Linked DNA regions of Homo sapiens: regions 1, 2, 4, 5, 6 and 7 are each reported to be linked to region 3. Evidence: microRNA targets listed by miRTarBase, many of them from high-throughput screens and not tested one by one. Region 3 holds a microRNA gene; each other region holds the end of a gene's coding sequence.

Region 1 (3,141 bases), not on the chromosome of region 3:
CACGAACTAATTCTCTCTGAGGATCGGAGACAAGTGACTCGTGGATACACCCAGGAGAATCAGGACACATCTTCCAGGAGATTTACTGCCTTCCCCTGTGTCTTGGGTTGTGAAGGCTTCACCTCAGGAAGACGTTACTTTGAAGTGGATGTTGGCGAAGGAACCGGATGGGATTTAGGAGTTTGTATGGAAAATGTGCAGAGGGGCACTGGCATGAAGCAAGAGCCTCAGTCTGGATTCTGGACCCTCAGGCTGTGCAAAAAGAAAGGCTATGTAGCACTTACTTCTCCCCCAACTTCCCTTCATCTGCATGAGCAGCCCCTGCTTGTGGGAATTTTTCTGGACTATGAGGCCGGAGTTGTATCCTTTTATAACGGGAATACTGGCTGCCACATCTTTACTTTCCCGAAGGCTTCCTTCTCTGATACTCTCCGGCCCTATTTCCAGGTTTATCAATATTCTCCTTTGTTTCTGCCTCCCCCAGGTGACTAAGGAAAAGAGCAGAAGCTCCTTGGTTTAACCAGCACAGAGAAAATAATATAAATCCCATAAGGGCAGACGTTTGGTCTGTTTTCTTCGCTGTCATTTCCTTAGTAGTTAGACTAGTGCTGAGATTTTAGTGGATATATAATTGATTTATGTTGAATATATGGACTTAGCAACTAAAAATACCACAGATGGTTAACCTGGACTGGGGCAAAGCAAGATAATAGTGATGATCGTATGTTGCTGTCTCCATCCGTCTTTAATGGGTCAGGGCTTTGATTTCCAAGGGTCTTCAGGTGATGAGTAGGGGTACCCACAAGTCAGAAGGTCTGCGTTCTCCTAGTTTGTTTGCTGCCATTTGAACTCATGTAGGGAATGAAAGAAAGCTGCAATTATCCGCCAACTGCATTTAAAACAAAACAAAACAGAAAAATCAAAATAACATTGACTCTTCCAACCACTGACATGTTGTTTAATAATCTAAGCGGCAGTCCTGGAGGCTACCAGACTTACTGAGTTCTACCTGAGAAACAGCCAAGCAAAGTGTGAGAGAAGGGTTAAGACTGGCTTACAATGAGATGCTTCAAATGAAAAGGGAATTATGAGTAAAATTGAACTTTGATGGGGGATTCAGTTCTGGAAAAGAATTTGGTATTTTCCAGTCTGCTAGGACCAATTACCTTGAAATATTTTAAAATCTCAGTAAATAGTTATTGCTGAAATGGCTGTTGGCAGTTCTTATTATGATTCAGAGAAGAGCAAATAGACCTTAACTTCATTTTGAAAAAGACCAAATTACCATACCCGAGTGAGTAATGACAGGACTACAACTAAAACATAAACAACATTAATGATGACCATAAAAAGTCACAAAATTGCTAAATGTTATAATTTAGAGTTGACATAAAAATTGATGGCCAGGCATGGTGGCTCACGCCTGTAATCCCAGAACTATGTGAGGCTGAGGCAGGTGGATCACTTGAGGTCAGGAGTTCAACACCAGCCTGGCCAACATGGTGAAACCCTGTCTCTACTAAAAATACAAAAATTAGCCGGGCATGGTGGTAGGGGCCTGTAACCCAGCTACTCGTGAGGCCAAGGCAGGAGAATTGCTTGAGCCTGCAGCAGCTGCAGTAAGCCAAGATCATGCTGTGCCTCAAGGAAAAAAAAAATTAATGTTTACTGATATTTGTTGAAGTCCTACAACATCACCTCTGAGAATAGGAGAAATGAAGCAACAGTTGTGTCTAGATGTCAGAGGCATGGCTGGGCCTCCATCTCTGCCTAAGGGAGATATAAAAGAGTTCAAACTATTGCCCATGTTCCCCAGGGTCAGAAGTTCTAATTATGATGATAGAGGCTGGGTTGTAAGTAGTAAGTGAAGGGTAGCAGAATATGCCATCTTTGGCATAAGAAGTATTTTGAGTTGAAGACAATTGAGAAAAAAAATAGATTAAAAACAAACAAACACCTCTGCCCTCTCCCTATTTGCCTAAAAGCAGGATATGAAATTGTGAAGGTGTCTTCTTACTCGGGGAAGAACAAAAGTTAGTCACCAGAGACTTTAGACTCTTATCAGCCTGGACATAGCACCAGAGAAGTCTTTTTTTTTAAAAAAAAAAAAAAAAAAAGGGAAAGAAAAAGTTGCCTTCCCACAATTTACTGCACTAGAAACTCAAAGTCCTTTTCGTCTTCCTTGTCACTTAAAAAATGTATTCTTTTCTTAAAATGCTATATAAGCCCAAGTTCTAAATCCTCTTTTGAGTATTCATCTCAGTACTCCCCTGTGTTTGTACAATGCACATGCTTTGTTTCTGTCTTGTCAATCTGTCTTTTGTTAGTCTACTTGATAGGGCCACAGATGGAGAACCTAAGATGAATAGAAAAAAAAGATTTTTCTCCCCAACAGAAGGATTATCGCCAGTTGCACTTGTTCTATATACCCGTAGTCTCGGTATGCTGACCCAGACTTGGGTAATAGGACCCAGTGGGTAACCGAGGAACCCCACCTTTGTGCAGGATCAGTGAAGATGTAATCTGGATATTCATAAGCTCTTCTCTACCTCTTGGCATCCCACAGTCCTGTGTTAATGTAAGTGTGGTCTTCCCCAGAAAGGGGAGGCCTCCCTAACATTGTTAAAGCCTAGCATATGCTGCTTAGAGGAAATTCTATATCCCTAAGCACTTAGATTGCTGAATAAGAAAGAATGATAATAAAATAAACAATTAAATAAAAGTTTTAAAAAATGAATAAAATAAACCTGTGGAAACTATAAGGAAGGCCAGAAGAAATATAAAATTGGAGATTAATTGGGGTGCAGGAAAGTTATGGAAAGAATATAAGTCCTGCTAGATAAATCATTAGCTATTTTAATAAAGAATACAGAAGAAAATAGGAACAAAAGAATATATACTGGAATAATTTTGAGAGTAATTTGAAGAATTAGATGCAAATAAATTTGAAAACCTTTAAAAAGAAACCAATGGCCTAACTGACCCAAGAAGGGAAAGAAAATCTAAACAGACTGATAAATACAAAATGAAATTCAGACACTTACAGAGCAGCCAGGCATGGTGGCTCACACCTGTAATCCTGTCACTTTGGGAGGCTGAGATGGGAGGATCACTTGAGGCTAGGAGTTTGAGACTAGCCTG
Region 2 (3,118 bases), not on the chromosome of region 3:
GCCTCAGCCACCCGAGTAGCTGGGATTACAGGTGCGTGCCACTACGCCCAGCTAATTTTTGTATTTTTAGTAGAGCCGGGATTTCACCATGTTGGCCAGGCCTGTCTTGAACTCCTGGCCTTAGGTGATCCACCTGCCTTGGCCTCCCAAAGTGCCGGGATTATAGGCATGAAGAACCACGCCCAGCCCTTTATTTAATTCTTAAAACAGCCCATGATTAGGAGTCTGCAGCAAGCTGGTCCAAAGGCACCCACCCCCTTTTCCCACTGACCCCTTTGTCTCCCCCACCCTGCTCCAGCAGAAAGCCCCATCCTTGGCTTAGGGAGCGCCATGACGACTGAAATTGGTTGGTGGAAGCTGACTTTCCTCCGGAAAAAGAAATCCACTCCCAAAGTGCTGTATGAGATCCCTGACACCTATGCCCAAACAGAGGGAGATGCAGAACCCCCGAGGCCTGACGCTGGAGGCCCCAACAGCGACTTTAACACCCGCCTGGAGAAGATTGTGGACAAGAGCACAAAGGGCAAGCACGTCAAGGTCTCCAACTCAGGACGCTTCAAGGAGAAGAAGAAAGTGAGAGCCACGCTGGCAGAGAACCCTAACCTCTTTGATGATCACGAGGAAGGACGGTCATCAAAGTGAAGGGCTGAGGAGGGTGCTAGCACCTCTTGGCTCCCTGCCATCAGCCAGATCTGAGACAGGACCTTGCCACGCTGGCCTCTTTGGCCATAGCTGAAGCTGTGGGGCCAGTTGATACCTGCTGGCAGGAAATGGCTGTTTTTTAGGTTTGTATTTATGTGCCGCCACTTTTGTAAGGCCTGGGAGATCCCAGGGTCCTCCACCCTCCCCCTGACCACATACAAAGGCACTCTAGTTCAAGAGTGAAAAGTCTCACCCAGGAGGAACAGCCCTCCTTGAAGCAATGGCAGGGCCAGCAGGGAGGTGGGCATGGCAGGGAATGGAGAGAGTGAGCCAGACAGACTTCACCTCCTTACTGGACACAGGGTCAAGGGCGAGTTTCAATTGCTGCTCCCTTTACTTTCTCTACCTGTGACTACTCCCTGGACCAATCCTGAGGAGGGCACATTTTCCAGAAGCCACGTGATAGGGGCTGGTTTCTGTGGAGCCAGAGGCAGAGACACTGAACTTGAGCTCACCTCCTAACACCGGCAGTAAACTTCCTGGAACTTTGCCCTCAGGTGCGGAGGGGACAGAGGACCCTGGCACTCTGTTAGGGTGCTGTAGAAGACTAGATTGATGGTAGTTTGGCCTGTTAGTTCCTGTTTTGGCCATGACTTTTGCAGATGGCAAGTCACACACCCTCAAAGGGAAGCTACACGGGCCAAATCGGGGGAGTGGGTGGGGAATTTTCTCCTCTCCCTTTCCTACTATAATAGTATTTAAGACATATCAGCTCCAGAGATGAGTCCTGGAGCCTTGAATTTTGTTTAACAAAATAATTGTAGGTTTCTCTCTGTAATAACAACGCTGGAAAGGCAGAGAACCTCTTTTATGCTCATGTCTTGCATTTATTGAGATGACTGTTTCTCATGCCTTTATGTTCCTTCATGTAAGTAAAGTGGACCTTTGTGCTCAAACTGTTCCTTTCAAGCTTCAGGAAGGGTTCCCAGGTGTGACAATGTAGGAACTGGGTCACTAATTTTTACCATCAAACTAGCCTTAGTATGGGGATGGGGCAGCAGAAGGAGCTAGTTACACCTCAGTGGTCAGTTCTCTCCAGTCAACAGAGAGCCCGTCAGGTGCTCTAAGAGAGTAGGGCAGACCTTTGGTGATTGACCCCAAAGTTTCAGTGGTTTGGTTTGGGATTAAGATTCAAACTCGGGCTCTACCCCTTAGTAGCTGGGTGACCTTGGGAACATTTGCTTGTACTCTGAGCCTCAGTTTCCTCTTCTGTAAAAGGGGGCTGAAATAATACCTATCTCATAGGGAGTGGTCAGTATTAAGTGGCCTATGAGAGGTCCCATAGTAAGTGCTCAGTTTAATACTGGTTTCCTTCCCCCTTCCTTTATAAGGAACTCCACCATACCCCACAGCTTTGGTTTAAGAAAAAGGAGAAGGTGGGTATAGTGGCTCAGGCCTGTAATCCTAGCACTTTGGGGGCTGAGGTGGGAGGACTGCTTGAGCCCAGGAGTTTGAGACCAGCCTAGGCAACATAGAGAGACCCCATGTCTAAAAAAAAACCAACCAACAAACAAAAAGTAGCTGACTGTGGTGGCACATGCCTGTAGTCCTATCTACTTGGGAGGCTGAGGTGGGAGGGTTGCTTGAGTCCAGGAGTTCAAGACGACAGTGAGCCATGATTGTGGCACTGCACTACCACCTGGGTGACAGAACTAGGTCTTATCTCTAGGGGAAAAAAAAAATTAATAAATAAGAGATGCTTGGCACGGTGGCTCATGCCTGTAATCCCAGCACTTTGGGAGGCTGAGGCAGGCAGATCACCTGAGGTTGGGAGTTCAAGACCAGCCTGGCCAACATGGAGAAACCCCGTCTCTACTAAAAATACAAAATTAGCCAAGTGTGGTGGCACATACCTGTAATCCCAGCTACTTGGAAGGCTGAGGCAGGAGAATTGCTTGAACCCAGGAGGCCGAGGTTGCGGTGAGCCGAGATAGCTCTATTGCACTCCAGCCTGGGCAACAAGAGCAAAACTCCGTCTCAAAAATAAATAAATAAATAAATAAGAAAGAGGAGAGAAAGCTGTCACTTTATGAGGTTAGGTCCAGCTCTTTCTCAAGCCATAAGAGCTGGGAACTAAAAAAATGTTGGCCAAATCTCTGGAGCTCGTGGTAGAAATACAGGGAGAGACCAAGGTGGCCACTAAACAATGTGGTCCTGCGGCTTCCAGGTCAGCTCCTGGCAGGCTGCTGGGCCACCCCACCCCAGGAGCTGTTGCTCAGGGAATTTATTAGTGAAACAAACAGACCTATACAAGGGAGGCTTTGTTAGGTGCCTCGTCCCAGCCAGGGGGACCTCAAATGATGAGTAAGGGAGACCAGGAGCTGGAGGGATGGAAGTCAGGCTCAGGGGTGCTGCCTTACCCAAAGCCTCTTTCCCCTACCCCGTCCCACTACACAGAACTTTCTAGGGTCTCACC
Region 3 (3,141 bases):
AACGAGCGAAACTCTGCCTCAAAAAAAAAAAAGAAAAAAATAATAATATGTATTTCTACCATAATTAACGTGCATGTGAAGTAATACCTTTTGGCGCGTCAGTCATCAGACCGCTCATATGTTCCAGTATAGTCCAGCACACACCTGCCTCATTAAAATGTGCTTTGAGTATATAATAGCTAATAAGGATTGGGTAGAATTTGAATAGCTGAATAAACATTTTTTTGCACAAGTGTACGTTTGTTATATTTAAGGAATAAGTTAACAGATAACAGATGCTATTGCTGTTAGGAGCCCTATCACAATACCTTTGATATCTTTGGGAATCCAGTTTTTTAATAATATAATAAATTCCCCTTTGTTCTCTGGGAATCTAACCATAGCCCTTAAAGGATATTACCTTGGTGAACTGTCAGGAAGTAGTGTCCCCACAACCTGGCAGTGTAAAACTCAGCCAAAGTAGCTGTAACTGTGAACTATCTAAAGGAGTCCACATGTGTGGCTTTCACAATGGTGCTCTTTCAAAGGCGGGAACCCTTTTTAAAATTGTACCTGTTTTCTATTTGATTGACTTTCCTAGGCTATTTCTAGATTGTGTGAAGACAAAGACTTGTGTAGAGCCGCTATGAGAAGGTCTTTCAGTGCTGATAACTTCATTGGTATTCAGCGCTCTAAAGCCATCCTCTCTTAAAAGGAGAAATGAGGGGTTATAACGTCATGGGACCTTCATCTACAAAGACTGGAGAAATACCACCTTTCCTGCTCAAAAACCAGCAAAATTAGTGTTTTCATCAAAAGGAAAGATCTCAAATTCAAGAGACTCATGGACAACAAGGATTATACTCCACAGGAAAGAATGGGACCTTGTCAATGCAACAAAACACTCTTCTGTCCTTTTTAATGTAAACAGAGTTACAAAAACCACTCCAAAGTGAAGGCTCCCATCCTACACACAGATATTTGCTTACTGTGTGGGCCGATAGCTGTGAACTATGTAAGGTTTTTTAAACAATAGTTTAAATTTTTAGACTTTAAAGACACTAACCATATAACTTTTATGTTTCTTCCAGTTTCTCTCCCTCCCCCCGCATTTTGCTGCATATGCCTTTAAAATCAATGCAGTATTACCATTAAAACATGGGACTCTAACTAAAGCCACTTAGGAGCAGACAGCAGCGTTGTTAGGTACTGAAGGGTTCTTCCTCCCTACTGTTACCATTGAAGCTGCTAGTCATTGGCAATCATTTTAAACCAAAAAGCTGCTGGATAACATTTGTCATTCATATTCTTTGCAAGCATTACTTTAGCATTTTAGCATGTTTGGGGTCATAAACAGAGGAAGTATCAGTTATTGATATCTACTTCTATTGGAGTCCATGTTGCATTTCTTGTGAACTATAAATGGTGCTTCTCATTTTCTGATAATTTTTCTCTTGCTAAATAAATGTATTAAAAGATATTTTCATAATGCCAACCAACATGGTGGTTCAGTGACGATGAGAAAAAGTGAAGCAGTTTTAAGCTTGAATATAGTTTGGGCCCTCCAAGGCACTGCAGCATGAGTATAAATGCTATAAACCTTTAAAAAACATGATTTGAAAGTTTTTTGTTTTGTTTTGTTTGTTTTTAAAGAGATGGGGGTCTTACTGCGTTGTCCAGGCTGGAGTGCAGTGGCTTTTCACAGGTGCAATCATTGTGCACTCACTGCAGCCTAGAACTTCCTGGTCTCAAGCCATCCTCTAGCCTCAGCCACACAAGTAGCTGGGACTACAAGTGCAACTGGCACCTGTCTCCTGAATATTAAGCTTTTAATTTTTTGTTTCGGTCACTCTTGATAGCAGACATTGACTGAAACAAAAAATTAAAAGCTTTATATTCAAAATTTGCAAAATGAAGCTGGGTGTGGTGGTGCACGCCTATAGTCCCAGCTACTTGGGAGGCTGAGGCTGGAGGATTGCTTGAGGTCAAGTATTGGAGGCTGCAGTGTACCATGATGGTGCCTATAGGAATAGCTACTACACTCCAACCTGGACAACGTTATCAAGACCCCATCTCTTAGAAAAATGCAAAATTAAATGCAAAAGAAATGGGCTGGGCATAGTGATTCATGCCTGTAATCTCAGTACCCTGGGAGGCTGAGGTGGAAGGATTGCTTGAGTGCAGGAGTTCAAGACCAGTCTAGGCAACATAGTGAGACCCTGCCTGTAAAAAAAAATAATAAAAATAGTTGGATATGGTGGCATGTGTCTGTAGTCCCAGCCACTCTGGAGGCTAAGGTGGGAGGATCAGTAGAGCCCAGGAGGTCAAGGCTGCAGTGGGCCATGATCATGTCACTGCTCTCCAACCTGGGCGACATCCAGACCCTGTCTCAAAGAAAAAAGCAGAAGAAAAATGTTCAGACAAGGTTTTGTAAAGGTTTGTAGCATTTATATTTCTACAAGTATCAAAGCTTAAAATTACACTGAACTTTTGGAATACCTTGTATCTCCATAAAATGCCCTCTTTTTAAAAGTAGTTACCCGCAGAGCTGTGCTCTATATGCTTTGATTACCGCAGTTTCTTTAAAGGAAGATTTTGAAGAGCAGTGTTAATTAACATGTAATAAAAGGAATTGGACCCTAATTATAGAAGGTGATATGAACAGCTGTTTTATCATCCTACATGCTACCAAGCTGTAGGTGTCCCATTAAGTCCTGCTATTTAAGAAATACTTACATAACCCTTAGGAACTCTTCAGGCTTTAAAAGGCAAGGAGCAAATAATTTTAGGAGACCGATAATGTCACCTAAATTTGAAATACTAAGAAGAGGTTAGTGTTCTCAACTATGTGAAATCTGTTTCTCCTACTTTCTCAAATCTAATCCTAGGAATCTTGCTTATAAACAAAGCATTTCTGGGACAGGAGTACTTCCTCTATTATAGCAATGCTTCACATCATATTGTGCTGCAGTTTCCATCATTTTTAAAGGACAGAGACATAAATGATAAATAATGGTATACAAATATTACAATCTACCACCTCAAAAAAACAAATATTGTTTATGGAATTCAGAGTTTGGAGATTCAAGTATTGATTGCAGTTTTATTTTGAAAAGAATGCTACAATTTATGTGGTTTTTATTTCTCATGTTTATATTAAAA
Region 4 (3,000 bases), not on the chromosome of region 3:
TCATCCATGAGGCTGACTCCCCTGGCTTTCCTGTCTCCTCTCCCTGCAGATCTCTGACCGCCTGCGCCGGAACTGGCCCCCCTCCTTCTTGTCCGAGTTCCGGGCTCTGCAGTTCTCGCTCATGCTCTGCGCGTTTGTTGGGGCACTGGGCGGCGCAGCCTTCCTGGGCACCGCCATCTTCATTGAGGCCGACCGCCGGCGGGCACAGCTGCACGTGCAGGGTCAGTTAGGAGCTGTGCCCGGCCCAGCTTCTTGATCTGCCTGTCTGTCTGTCCATCTGTCTGCCCACTCCTGTGCACCTGGCAGCTCAGTCCACAGCCCTCCCCTTGTTTGGCCTCCAGTCTGTCTGCATCCACCCCTGGGGTGGCTCTGTGGCTGCCCCATCCATTTCCCGCTGCCTGTTTGCCCTTCTCTGGCTTTGTCTGTCTGTCCATCCAGCTCACCCTGGCTCTGACCCTCCCCCCTCAGGCCTGCTGCACGAAGCAGGGTCCACAGACGACCGGATTGTGGTGCCCCAGCGGGGCCGCTCCACCCGCGTGCCCGTGGCCAGTGTGCTCATCTGAGAGGCTGCCGCTCACCTACCTGCACATCTGCCACAGCTGGCCCTGGGCCCACCCCACGAAGGGCCTGGGCCTAACCCCTTGGCCTGGCCCAGCTTCCAGAGGGACCCTGGGCCGTGTGCCAGCTCCCAGACACTACCTGGGTAGCTCAGGGGAGGAGGTGGGGGTCCAGGAGGGGGATCCCTCTCCACAGGGGCAGCCCCAAGGGCTCGGTGCTATTTGTAACGGAATAAAATTTGTAGCCAGACCCCAGGTGCCTGCTCTCGTCTTTCTCTGGGTGGCCTCTGATCTTGCACCCCGTCTTCACCCCAGGGCTCCTGAAGACTGTGGGTCATTCCTCAGGGCTCTGGGTGAGTCTCTGCCCTTCTGGGCTGGGCGACTGAGATGGGGGACTGCTCTTCTCCGAGTGAGCTGGCTGAGTGTGACCGTGAGTCACGCCCCTGCTTCCCTGGAGCCTGTCCCTTGCCTCACAGGCCTGGCTGAGGTGGGGGTGGGCACTGCCCTTTGTACCCCAGAATTCCCACTGTCAGGGCCTCCCTGCTCGCTGCCTCCCCGGGTCCTGGATATGGAGGCCACGGCTGCCAGCTGGCAGGTGGCTGTCCCCGTCTTGGGGGGGGCCAGCAGACCCTTGGTGAGTGCCTGGGGTGGCTCCCGGGCCTCCTCCTGCCCCCTCCCCACTGGCGGGTGGGGTGGGAAGGGGGCGGGTGCAGCCGGCTGAGAGCTTGATGATTTCCTGCCCTCGCCCGGCGCTCACCACAGCTTCCTGCCGCAGGCGGGCGGGAGGGCGGGCACGGAGAGGCGGGCGCCGAGGAGGGGCAGGTAGGGCTGGGACGCAGGGGTAACTGGATCCCCCGACTTCAGCCCAGGCCCTGGTCTGACCACCCTGGGAGCAGGGACTTTCCACAGTCAGCTGGACGCACACTCAGCCCAGTAAAAGAGGGGACCCATCCCGGGAGCCCCGGGGAGGGCACAGCTGCCTCCTCCCGGGCTCCCCTGCCACCTGGTGCCTACCTGCCCCCTGCTCCCTGCCGGGTCCGGTCCTCACCCCATCTTCATCTGGCCTTGACTCTGCCCTTGAGGGGCCTAGGGGTGCAGCCAGCCTGCTCCGAGCTCCCCTGCAGATGGAGGAGGCCATCCTGGTCCCCTGCGTGCTGGGGCTCCTGCTGCTGCCCATCCTGGCCATGTTGATGGCACTGTGTGTGCACTGCCACAGACTGCCAGGTGAGTGGGAAACTGGTGGGGGTACCCAGGGCCCAGGGACACCGACGGGATCCTCATCCACTCCCAGCCCCTGTGTCTGTCCTGGCTCTGTCCCTGCCTCCGTCCTGATCCCAGCGCCTCTGAGAGTCCCTGGATCCCAGCACCTTCTGCCCTAAGCACCCCCTGTTCCTGCCTCACCAGCCCTCTCTTTCCCAGGCTCCTACGACAGCACATCCTCAGATAGGTGAGTCCGCCCCAGCCGCCCTGGGTCTCCCTCCACACCCCATGGCGGGGCAGGGCTGGGGCTTCCATCCTCCATCTTCCAGCCCCATCCCCAAGCTGTGTCTCCTTTACCAGTTTGTATCCAAGGGGCATCCAGTTCAAACGGCCTCGTGAGTACAAGGAGGGTCCCCTACCTTGGGTGCCAGGGAGAGGGTCCCCTGGTGTGGGAGTGAGCGTGAACCTTCAGACTTCCCCTGCCACCTTGGGGCTGCCCACATGGCCTTGACCTGAGCTGGGAGAGGGGAGATGGCTCCCCCAGGCCTGTCCAGGGTGTGGGGCTTTCAGGGGCTTAGTCTGTTCTTTGAGGCCTTGACGATGTCCGGAGTCCTTCTTTCAACTTGGTTCTGTGTCCTCAGACACGGTTGCCCCCTGGCCACCTGCCTACCCACCTGTCACCTCCTACCCACCCCTGAGCCAGCCAGACCTGCTCCCCATCCCGTGAGTAGCTGCTCAGCCCCTGCCCCTCCAAAGCTCAGCCCCTCCCCCTCCAAACTCCACTCTCTACCCCTTCACTTTTTTGGATTGGGGGCCCCTTTCCCTTTTGCAACTGCTGTTGCCCCCTGAGCCCCACCTCAGGCATGACCCCTGACCTTTGACTCCCAGAAGATCCCCGCAGCCCCTTGGGGGCTCCCACCGGACGCCATCTTCCCGGCGGGATTCTGATGGTGGTAAGTGTGGGGAAGGGTTCAGGCGGCGGGGGCTGGGAAGAAGATAGGCCTGGCCTGAGCTGACTTAGTCTCCCTCTCACCCTCTCTTTGAAGCCAACAGTGTGGCGAGCTACGAGAACGAGGGTGCGTCTGGGATCCGAGGTGCCCAGGCTGGGTGGGGAGTCTGGGGTCCGTCCTGGACTAGGCTGACCCCTGTGTCGTTACCCCCAGAACCAGCCTGTGAGGATGCGGATGAGGATGAGGACGACTATCACAACCCAGGCTACCTGTGAGTGGCCAGGTGGGAGGTG
Region 5 (3,000 bases), not on the chromosome of region 3:
GCACTCTGGAAGCCTGTTTAAAGAGTCCGGGAAGGAGAAATCTGAGAAGATGCCATTTCTTTTTCCACTCCCCTTTCACATTGGCCTTTGCATATTTGCCTGTGCCTCATGATCTCAGAAAACCACAGGCATGAAAAGAATGCTGCAGCCTGCCTCCCTCAGGGCTCTCCATTGCTCTCTCTAAGCCCTCCAACCAGTTCAAAGTTAGAAACAAATGCATCCTACACATCGGAGGTTGGTGGGCTGGGCTGAGCACTGAAAGGGGGCAGAGCATTGTGCTTGGTTGGCCGAGTTCTGGGAACCTGGGCAGCAGAGGTGGGAAAAGTTGGTGAAGAACGATCTTTGTCTTTCAAATGTGCCAGGATTTTAAAAGCAATCTAGTAACACTCATTGGCATGTGCCTGTGTTCTTGTCTGTCTCCAGACTCTGTAGCTACATCCAGAGTCCAGGACTTGTCAGACATGGTGGAGATACTGATCTGAAGGAGGTGGTGCTTCAGGACTCTGAGCCATTCTCTCCCCTCCTCTGCCCTGTGCCACTCTCAGCCATTTCAGCAGCCCCGTCAACCGCTGCTCCGTCCCTTTCCCCAGCCAGACACTCATTCCCATTGACCATCTGGTCCCAGGAGCTCAGGAGGAGGACCCCAGGGGAGAGGAGAGCTGTGAGAGCACCGGCACCCCCAGAAGACTCTGCTTCTTAGCCCACATTCCTCCGGGCCTTATGGAGAATGAGGATTCAGCCTTGACTTCTTGCCCAAGGCCTGCTACTGGGGTAGCAACTGACAGCTCAGAAAGGAGCTGAGCTCCCTCTGCCCTGCCAGTTGTCAGTCAGGCAGGGAGGGAGTGGCTGTGTTGGTTTGGGGAACTAATTTCCACGGACGGCTGCCCGTGGACACCAGGTGGACTGGTTCACTAATCAAGTCAGCCATATTGTTCTCTGGCTAAGTTTGGTTCCAGCCAACGTCATCTGCTCTTCAGTTCCTCACTGCCTTCTTGGGATACTAAGACTTGAATTTTTTGGGGACTATTAAGGGTGTTAGTCTTGGAGAAGACACAGCCTCACCTTCTCACTTGCTGTGGGTGAGGGGCCATTTAAGTGGACTGGGAGACAGTGCGCAGTTTGTATATAATTCCCTTTCTTGTGGAACAGAAGACTGAGGCCTGCAGGTTCCGATGTGTCTCCATGGGCTGTGCTCCCCTCTTCCTACTGTCAGTTTCTGAAACTTCTGACTGGCCTCCCAGTTATGCCTCCTCCTCAAGTTCCTGGCCCGTGGATGTTAAAGCTGCTCGATTCCCAGGATCTCGGCTGCCTTTTCCTCTATCTTGAGCCCTATAAATGCCCACGGGACCCCCACCACCAGCCTCTTGAAGTGGCTCCACAGCTCCTGTCCCTGGAACATCCTGTCAGTTTGGTCATAAACCCTGAGCCAGATGAAATGAGCCACCGTGAACAGACATCTGCCATGCCCCCAGGTGGGCTTCGGTGGCCCTACCCGGTACCAGTTCTTTCTGAGAAACTGGAGATGTCTTGTTAGCATAAGTGTCTTCATTCCCACCTGGAGGGTTTGGGAGAGGAGCAAAGCAGTTGAAAACTAGTTAATGAGCTACAAGAGTCAAATAGTCCTCTGAATGGAGCCCCCATCACAAAACAGTGCCCAGGAGGCTGGCTCCTCAAGCTACCCATGCCCAGCGCCCTAAAGCAGCACCAGATGCTTTGGAATTGGGGTGAAACACCCACATGGCAGCCTGCTAGCAGCAGTGACTTTGACTTCTGGTCTTAAAGAGTCCCTCACTTCAGCCCCAGGAGCTATTGGTGGGTTTTAGCAGTTTTGTCTTTACCGTTTTTAGTTCTCCTTGATTCTTTGTTTTCTTCCTTTATCGTTTTTAGGTTTGGTATGTGTTGTTTTATTTCCATGGTTCCTCAAGTTTCCTTTTTAAACATTTGCATTTGCTGGACAATTGCAATTTTTTTTAAAAAATTCCCCTACCCCTGTTTAAAGCTGAAAAATACATTTGGTTCATGTGCATTGTTTACAAAGCAAAAAGAAAAAAGAGGAAAAAAAGGCAAAAAATATTGTGAAAGAAAAAAAACAACTTAATATATTTTGGATTAATATTTGGTATTTCTTTTAAAGTATTTTTTGTGCTGTGAACATTTTCTGCCAAAGACCATGATGTGTGTCTGTATGTTTAAGTTATCGTAAATATTTAAAATGTAAACATGGCTGTTTTGTTATGCCACCCTGTACCAGGATTGCTGCCGCATTCCACTGGGTATAACAGTATTTTAATTAAAAAAAAATAATTAAAAGTGATGTCTTTGCACAGGTGAGACTTTGCACTGAGGGAAGGGAAAGGGTGAGGATTTTGGGGGGCCACCCAAGTCATAGTCCAATCTCTTCAAGGACCCAAGATAGAATTTAGGAATTTTGTGAAGCTGCATTAAGGATAGAGTTGGAATGAGGATGTGGCTGGCATTTTTCCCCTTTCATAGATAACATTTCTTGAAGGCTGGGAGGGGAAGGAGGGCCTGGCAGATGGCAGCCTCCCGAGGTAGGGCTGTGTTCTAATCAGCTTTGTTCGGCCACACGCTGTGGTTATCCACAGTGGGAGTGGGTGTCCAAAGATGGCTTTATCCTTCCCCCACTCCTTTTCCCACTCCCACCTAGCACATAAAGTTTTGTCCGAAACCATCCAGAAGGCCAGGCACCATGCAGAGGACATTCAAGAATGTGCATGTTCTTAGCCACCGCCTCCCTCCTTTGCTGTGACATCACCACTCTTTCCTGATGCTCAGGAAAGCATATTGCTCCAATTCAAAATTAAAGAAAGCCATTCTCAGTCTTGCTTGTTCTTGTATCAGAAACAAAATACCTGTCTTGTGCTTCTATAAGTGTGTTAGGACCCTGAGGTTCCCAGTCAGCATGTGGCCAGCAGTTAGCTGGCCATGAGGCAGCAGCAGGCTACCAGACAGCCTACGTGACATGTGACAGGAACAGTT
Region 6 (3,000 bases), not on the chromosome of region 3:
TATAGACACAGAAAGATGCTGATGATATACTAATAGAAGGGAAAAAGAACAAGTCCAGAACACAAACTTTTTAACCTATTTGTTAAAAAAGTAAAGAGGGATCCAAGAGAATAAAATGTGATAAAAAATCAGAGAGAATATAAAAGAAAAAGAAAAGAGAAGTAACATTTATATATTCTTTTAAGACATATTTAAAAGGGTCTACAAGGATACATATCAAACCATCAGACTGCACACTAGGAAATGGAAGGGAATTAGGGCCCAAAAGTTCAAAGGGATTTTTCCTTTTTTACTCAATATTATTCTTTATAACTAAAAATGTTCACTGTTTTTGTCATTTTGAGAAGACAAAAGCAAGTGAGAAATAATTTACTATCTTATGTTCACTCTTCTGTTTAAAAAAGAGCAAGATGTATAAACCAATGAAGGGAATATACTAAAACCCAACCGGAGACTAAAAGAGCAATAATAAAATTACATATTAAGAACAGCTACTGACACCTATAAAGAATCAAAGCAACTGACACAATAAATTTTATTGTTTCCATAATAATAGGCTCTGGACAAAGACAATGGAGACAATGACAACACATTTAAACTCCTATAACAAATTAATCTGTTACAAATTTCCAGTGGCTCAACATATTAAAATGCAAAACATATAAAGAAAAAAACAAGAAATATAAATATTCAGATTTTTGCAGTACAATGAAATGTCTTTTAAAAAAAGTTTGTTGTAATTGTGTATGTAATTCTGACAGTAATTCAAAACACAAAATCACACATTTTCCCTAACTTCCCATGTTCTGGATCTGGGGACTGCAATATTACAGAAATATGCAAAAATAAGTTTAGTGCTCAGAGATAAATAATTTTCCTTATTTCAATGCATCAATGCGCAAAAATTTCAATTCAAAAAAGCCAACCACTGCTATATGCAGATAAATAAAACATTTGACAACACTTTTATAATCAAACCCAACATTATACAAAAAATGTGTGGCACATGCACATACGTGTGCATATGTGTATGCAATGCCTATTTTAGAAAAAAGGTGTCTTGATGAAAATGATTTTGAAAATAGTCACTGACACACATTATATACAAAACCTTTTATATAAAAAATTAAACTATTTTCAATGAAATTCCATGTTCACATCCTATCTGAAAATTGCAATTGAATCATAAATAGGTCTACTAACGAAATCATGGCTAAGGCAGTTCTCTTTCCAAGGGTTTTCTTTTATATCCACCTGATGTCACTAATACTAATGTAGTCAAATATACAGATGCAACCTGACATGCCTATGCGTTATTACCTGGAGCTCTGTTCACTGTTATAATGGGAGAATTTACAGTTGCTACAAAGAATATTTTTCTTTTTTAAAATATACTGGTTTCTCTATTCCAAATTAAGCACTTACTTAAGACATTAAGAGGCTGAGAAGCCACTCCATTTGGTGTCAATATCAATAGCCCTATAAGAAAGAACTCTGTATTGGAATAGCTAGAAAAGTTCTCACTAAAGTGAGAACTTTAGTGCATCCTTCACCTGCATAGAATCAGTTTGGCTAATAGCTCTTTGCCCCAGAACACCAGTCTGGAGTTCAAATAGGCTCCTGAAAGTTCATCTCAGATAAGAAAAAAACATCTCACAGAAGCAATGTAAGGACACACAGGATAATAAAATGGTTAAAATCTGTTTGATGAGTCTTACTTACAGCATTCCTCATTTGGAGGAGCTGCTATAGGTTAAGGTGGAAACAAAAATGGAAAAGATCAGGGGCAATAAAGTTGAGTTGGCCAAGTATTTACGCCAGTAACCATTTCAATAAGTCTTTAAGCAAACAACTGCAATGACCTGGTACCTCTAAGCTCATCATTCTACAAGCACTGAGGATATGAAGCTTAAAAGGTGAAAACTTGAATACCCTTAGAAAAGGGGAACAGTCTGAGGCAAAAGTTGTAGGCCTGTAAATATATATTTTATTTTATTTTCATCTTTTTTGAGACGGAGTTTTGCTCTTGTTGCCCAGGCTGGAGTGCAGTGGTGTGATCTCGGCTCACTGCAACCCCCACCTCCCGGCTTCAAGTGATTCTCGTGCCTCAGCCTCCCGAGTAGCTGGGATTATAGGTACCCGCCACTATGCCCAGCTAATTTTTGTATTTTTCGTAGAGATGGGGTTTCACCATGTCAGGCTGGTCTCAAACTCCTGACCTCAGGTGATCCGCCTGCCTCGGCCTCCCAAAGTGCTGGGATTACAGGCGTGAGCCACCACGCCTGGCGTAAATATGTATTTTATATGCACACACAACTGTGTGTATTATTCTGTATATATTTACATACATATTCACAAGATGCCCTGCAGTATAATTCAAAAGGCCTTTAACAAGGAACAAATTGATTCTAGTATAGGCCCTAGAGTTCACACCACCTGTATAAGAAACAAATGTGCATGTATTCACATAATGTAAACCTCATCAACAAAAACACTAGGTTAAATAGTAAGTTTTAGGTTAATGGTTTCTAACCATTACCAATCAGTGATGTAATCAGAACATTTCTTACACTGAGAATCAAATTAAAAAGAAAACACAGCTGGACTTTAAATTCCACAAGAAAAAAGATGTTCAGTATGGCAAACATGAAGAAAGTTCAAATTCCAGAGTAGGGAAAAATATCAAAACTTTATAAATCTCCTGGGATGCAATTTAATTACTGCATCATTAGAAAAATAGACTCATAGAATGAACGGTGCTGCTATGGATTCTCTCAACACATCAACCCATGTTTATCTTTTTCCTCTTTTGTTTCCAGCTGGAGGTTTCTTCAACTGAAGGAGTTGTCCTCCTGTTCCAAAACCTGCAGAGGCAGGATTGGACACCCCAAAAGTCAAACCAGCTGATGCCGTGATGCCAGGATTGCTGAAGTTAAACCCAGATGTACTTGAGCTGCCAAAGCCTTATGTTTAGGGAAAAAAATATTCATATCAGAAGTT
Region 7 (3,133 bases), not on the chromosome of region 3:
ACTCAGGAGCACAAGCCAAGCACACAGTAAGTGTTCAGGAAGTGCTGACATTATGAAGTTCAAACAGCACCACTGGTAAACGAAGTTCAGATTTCAGAGGTGGAGACTGTGTACGCAGCCTCACAGCTGAGTGGATGCCGTGGTGAAATGTTTAGATCATAGGCCTTTGAGAAAAATTATGAGAATGTTAGAGGAATGGGCCTCCGTTGGCACCCAGAAATAAACGTTAAAGGAGGCTATTTCATCATATAACAACTTCTGGACTTCTAGAAAAGTGAAAAGAGAGGCTTGGGTAAGGAAGATGAAAGCCCTCCCACCACCCTGCATGCTGACCTAGGGCATCCTTCCTTCTACTCTGTTGTTAGATCCTCATGATGGCCAAAAAAAAGCATTCTTTAACCTAAACCATCCCCATGGCTCAATCTCTACCCCTTCATCACCAAGGAAAAGCCACTTCTCTTATCTGAAAGGCCTGCTGTTCACATAAGCAAACACTACCACAAAGGCTCTCCATCATCCGAATGAAGATGCCAATCAAGGACTTTTACTGCAGGTTTGTTTGCCACTTTCAAATTACACAATGTAAGGGGTAAAGGGTACAACACATAAAACCCCCAGCATCAAACAAACAGGCCAAACAAAACACCAGCATCACACATTTCCTCTAAATTGACAGTACAAAAGCAAATTATGGAAATGATGCAGGAGGGAATAAACAATGGCATATTTTCTTCACGTCAGTCATTAATATTTATTCCCCTGTGAAATTCATTGTTCTAACTTCCATTATTCAAAGTGGAAGTTCTGTCCTTGAGGACACCCAAAATTATGCTATTACGTGGCAGCATCAACAGCATCCTCGGCGTTGGGAGAAAAAGCCAAGCTTGTTCTCTGTACAAAGCTTGTTCTTTGTACAAAGTTGTTGCTCCATAAATAGTGCAACAATAGGATCAGGCTGGGTGCAGTGGCTCATGCCTGTAATCCCAGCACTTTGGAAGGCCGAGGTGGGCAGATCACCTGAGGTCAGGAGTTCAAGACCAGCCTGTCTAACATGGCGAAACCCCATCTCTACTAAAAATACAAAATTAGCCGGACATGGTAGTGGGTGCCTGTAATCCCAGCTACTCAGCAGGCTGAGGCAGGAGAATTGCTTGAACCCGGGAGGCGGAGGTTGCAGTGAGCGGAGATCGCACCACTGCACTCCAGCCTGGGAGACAGAGTGAGACTCCATCTCAAAAACAAAAAACAATAGGATCATTGTACCCTTACCAGGGCTCCTGCAAGGGTCCCCACATGCCTTGTCCAGTGAGGTCCTGAGGTCAGTAGTCACAGCTGAGCAGGGCACAGGCACTTCTGAGTAGGAAGGCACGATAGTATGAGAGAAGTTTCCAGCATTGGAAACTTTCTGCAGTTTACGTGACACTTCAGATGAACTAGGTGTAGTTTCCCAGAGGAAGTCCAAATTCAGTTCTGATAGCTTCATCTTGCTCTATCATTACTTTTCAGGACTCCTTCAACTCTTAAACTCCAAGAAGCTAAGGAGGAGAAAATGACCCTCATCTGTATGATTTGAGGCTCCAGCCTTTCACTAACTTGGCAGATGGATCCTGAAACCTGCTAGCTGTCAGGCTTTTTTTTTTTTTTGAGATGGAGTCTCGCTCTGTCACCCAGGCTGGAGTGCAATGGCACGATCTTGGCTTACTGCAACCTCTGCCTCCCAGGTTCAAGCGATTCTCCTGCCTCAGCCTCCCAAGTAGCTGGGACTACAGGAGCCCACCACCATGCTCAGCTAATTTTTTGTATTCTTAGTAGAGATGGGGTTTCACCATATTGGCCAGGCTGGTCTTGAACTCTTGACCTCACGTGATCCACCCACTTAGGCCTCCCAAAGTGCTGGGATTACAGGTGTGAGCCACCACACCCGGTCTTTTTTTTTTTTCTCTTTGAGATGGAGTTTTGCTTTTTTGCCCAGGCTGGAGTGCAGTGGCACAACCTTGGCTCACTGGAACCTGTGCCTCCCGGGTTCAAGCGATTCTCCTGCCTCAGCCTCCCAAGTAGCTGGGATTATAGTTATGCGGCACCATGCCTGGCTAATTTTTTGTATTTTTAGTAGAGACTCCATCTCAAAAACAAATAAACAAACAAAAACTTATTTTAGCTTACCATTGATTTTTACTAAATTTTTTTTTTTTTTTGAGACAGAGTCTTGCTCTGTCGCCAGGCTGGAGTGCAATGGTGCAATCTTGGCTCACTGCAACCTCCACCACCTGGGGTCAAGTGATTCTCCTGCCTCAGCCTCCCAAGTAGCTGGGACTACAGGCACGTGCCACCACACACAGCTAATTTTTGTATTTTTAGTAGAGATGGGGTTTCACCATATTGGCCAGGATGGTCTCGATCTCTTGACCCCGTGATCCACCTGCCTCAGCCTCCCAAAGTGCTGGGATTACAGGCGTGAGCCACTGTGCCCAGACGATTTTTACTAAACTTTTAAGCTTTAGTTTAGGCAACAGATCACAACTTCTTTCCCCAGTTATTAACTCCCAGATTGTTTCAGATCCCCAAATGGGAAGTCTGAAATATCATGCTGTAGAATTCCTATGTCTTAGCTTCTGCAGTGTTTCTCTGCAAAGGGGCCAGGATGACCCCAGCATTCCTGTCTTCACTCTCAGAGCTGTACAAATTATGCTTTTCAATGTATTCTTGGACAAGATCTGGTACCAAGTAGCGAATGCTCTGGCCCCTTCTGAGGGCTCTCCGGATTTTTGTGGATGAGATGTCATTAGCGATCCATTCATTCACCACGTGAATGTTGCTCCGGTGTTTCCACAGCACATCCGATTCATAGATAAACTTCTGAGCATCATTTCCAGCCCGAGTAACACATATGAGCCCATAGTTGGCCACGATTTGGGTGATGTCTTCACTCTTCCACAAATTGGGAACAGCAAAGGACTCCAATAAATCTGCCCCACACAGCAGCTTGACCTTTGGCACAGCTGGGAAGAATAAAACAGAGCTTTGGGGTATGCTTTTTCTTCCCCTCTACCTCCTCCAAGTGGAAAGGGGTTTACTTTTCTAATAACCCACTGTATCAAAATGAAGATACGTATGTGCTTTTCAAGGATGAGGG

What was found. Region 3 holds the annotated microRNA hsa-miR-4775 (UUAAUUUUUUGUUUCGGUCACU, at 1,809-1,830, shown strand). A microRNA usually pairs through its seed, bases 2 to 8, with sites in the 3' UTR of a target mRNA and lowers its output. Matches are read on the target gene's strand: a 7mer-m8 pairs with bases 2 to 8, a 7mer-A1 pairs with bases 2 to 7 and ends in A, and an 8mer does both.
Region 1: miRTarBase lists TRIM38 as a target of hsa-miR-4775. Seed matches in the 3' UTR shown: 7mer-m8 at 1,531-1,537 and 8mer at 1,655-1,662.
Region 2: miRTarBase lists PRR15L as a target of hsa-miR-4775. The part of its 3' UTR that is shown has no 7-base or 8-base seed match.
Region 4: miRTarBase lists SPNS1 as a target of hsa-miR-4775. The part of its 3' UTR that is shown has no 7-base or 8-base seed match.
Region 5: miRTarBase lists AMOTL2 as a target of hsa-miR-4775. Seed matches in the 3' UTR shown: 8mer at 2,818-2,825.
Region 6: the mRNA of NUP58 is a reported target of hsa-miR-4775. Seed matches in the 3' UTR shown: 7mer-m8 at 2,157-2,163 and 7mer-m8 at 870-876.
Region 7: miRTarBase lists NMNAT1 as a target of hsa-miR-4775. Seed matches in the 3' UTR shown: 7mer-m8 at 2,341-2,347, 7mer-m8 at 2,092-2,098 and 7mer-m8 at 1,791-1,797.

Annotation. Positions count from the first base shown.
Region 1 is chr6:25,983,196-25,986,336 of GRCh38, forward strand. It overlaps TRIM38 (tripartite motif containing 38), which reads left to right. Exons shown (of 8, transcript NM_006355.5): 8 at 1-3,141. The coding sequence ends at 492. Among named protein-coding and RNA genes, the nearest start is that of LINC02980, 7.9 kb to the right of the region's middle.
Region 2 is chr17:47,950,447-47,953,564 of GRCh38, reverse strand. It overlaps PRR15L (proline rich 15 like), which reads left to right. Exons shown (of 2, transcript NM_024320.4): 2 at 302-1,598. The coding sequence starts at 331. The coding sequence ends at 642. Among named protein-coding and RNA genes, the nearest start is that of PRR15L, 5.9 kb to the left of the region's middle.
Region 3 is chr2:207,753,008-207,756,148 of GRCh38, forward strand. MIR4775 (microRNA 4775) reads left to right here and starts at 1,800; the gene lies at 1,800-1,874. It overlaps CCNYL1 (cyclin Y like 1), which reads left to right. Exons shown (of 10, transcript NM_001330218.2): 10 at 581-3,141. The coding sequence ends at 691.
Region 4 is chr16:28,983,737-28,986,736 of GRCh38, forward strand. SPNS1 (SPNS lysolipid transporter 1, lysophospholipid) reads left to right here. Exons shown (of 12, transcript NM_032038.3): 11 at 50-221; 12 at 469-807. The coding sequence ends at 563. It overlaps LAT (linker for activation of T cells), which reads left to right and starts at 1,316. Exons shown (of 12, transcript NM_001014987.2): 1 at 1,316-1,781; 2 at 1,977-2,004; 3 at 2,118-2,152; 4 at 2,399-2,480; 5 at 2,646-2,710; 6 at 2,804-2,833; 7 at 2,921-2,978. The coding sequence starts at 1,682. RefSeq lists silencers at 1,077-1,356, 1,377-1,436.
Region 5 is chr3:134,355,187-134,358,186 of GRCh38, reverse strand. AMOTL2 (angiomotin like 2) reads left to right here. Exons shown (of 10, transcript NM_016201.4): 10 at 424-2,840. The coding sequence ends at 482. Among named protein-coding and RNA genes, the nearest start is that of MIR6827, 11 kb to the left of the region's middle.
Region 6 is chr13:25,339,928-25,342,927 of GRCh38, reverse strand. It overlaps NUP58 (nucleoporin 58), which reads right to left. Exons shown (of 16, transcript NM_014089.4): 16 at 507-2,963. The coding sequence ends at 2,794. Among named protein-coding and RNA genes, the nearest start is that of ATP8A2, 31 kb to the left of the region's middle.
Region 7 is chr1:9,982,167-9,985,299 of GRCh38, reverse strand. NMNAT1 (nicotinamide nucleotide adenylyltransferase 1) reads right to left here. Exons shown (of 5, transcript NM_022787.4): 5 at 1-2,999. The coding sequence ends at 2,599. Among named protein-coding and RNA genes, the nearest start is that of RBP7, 13 kb to the left of the region's middle.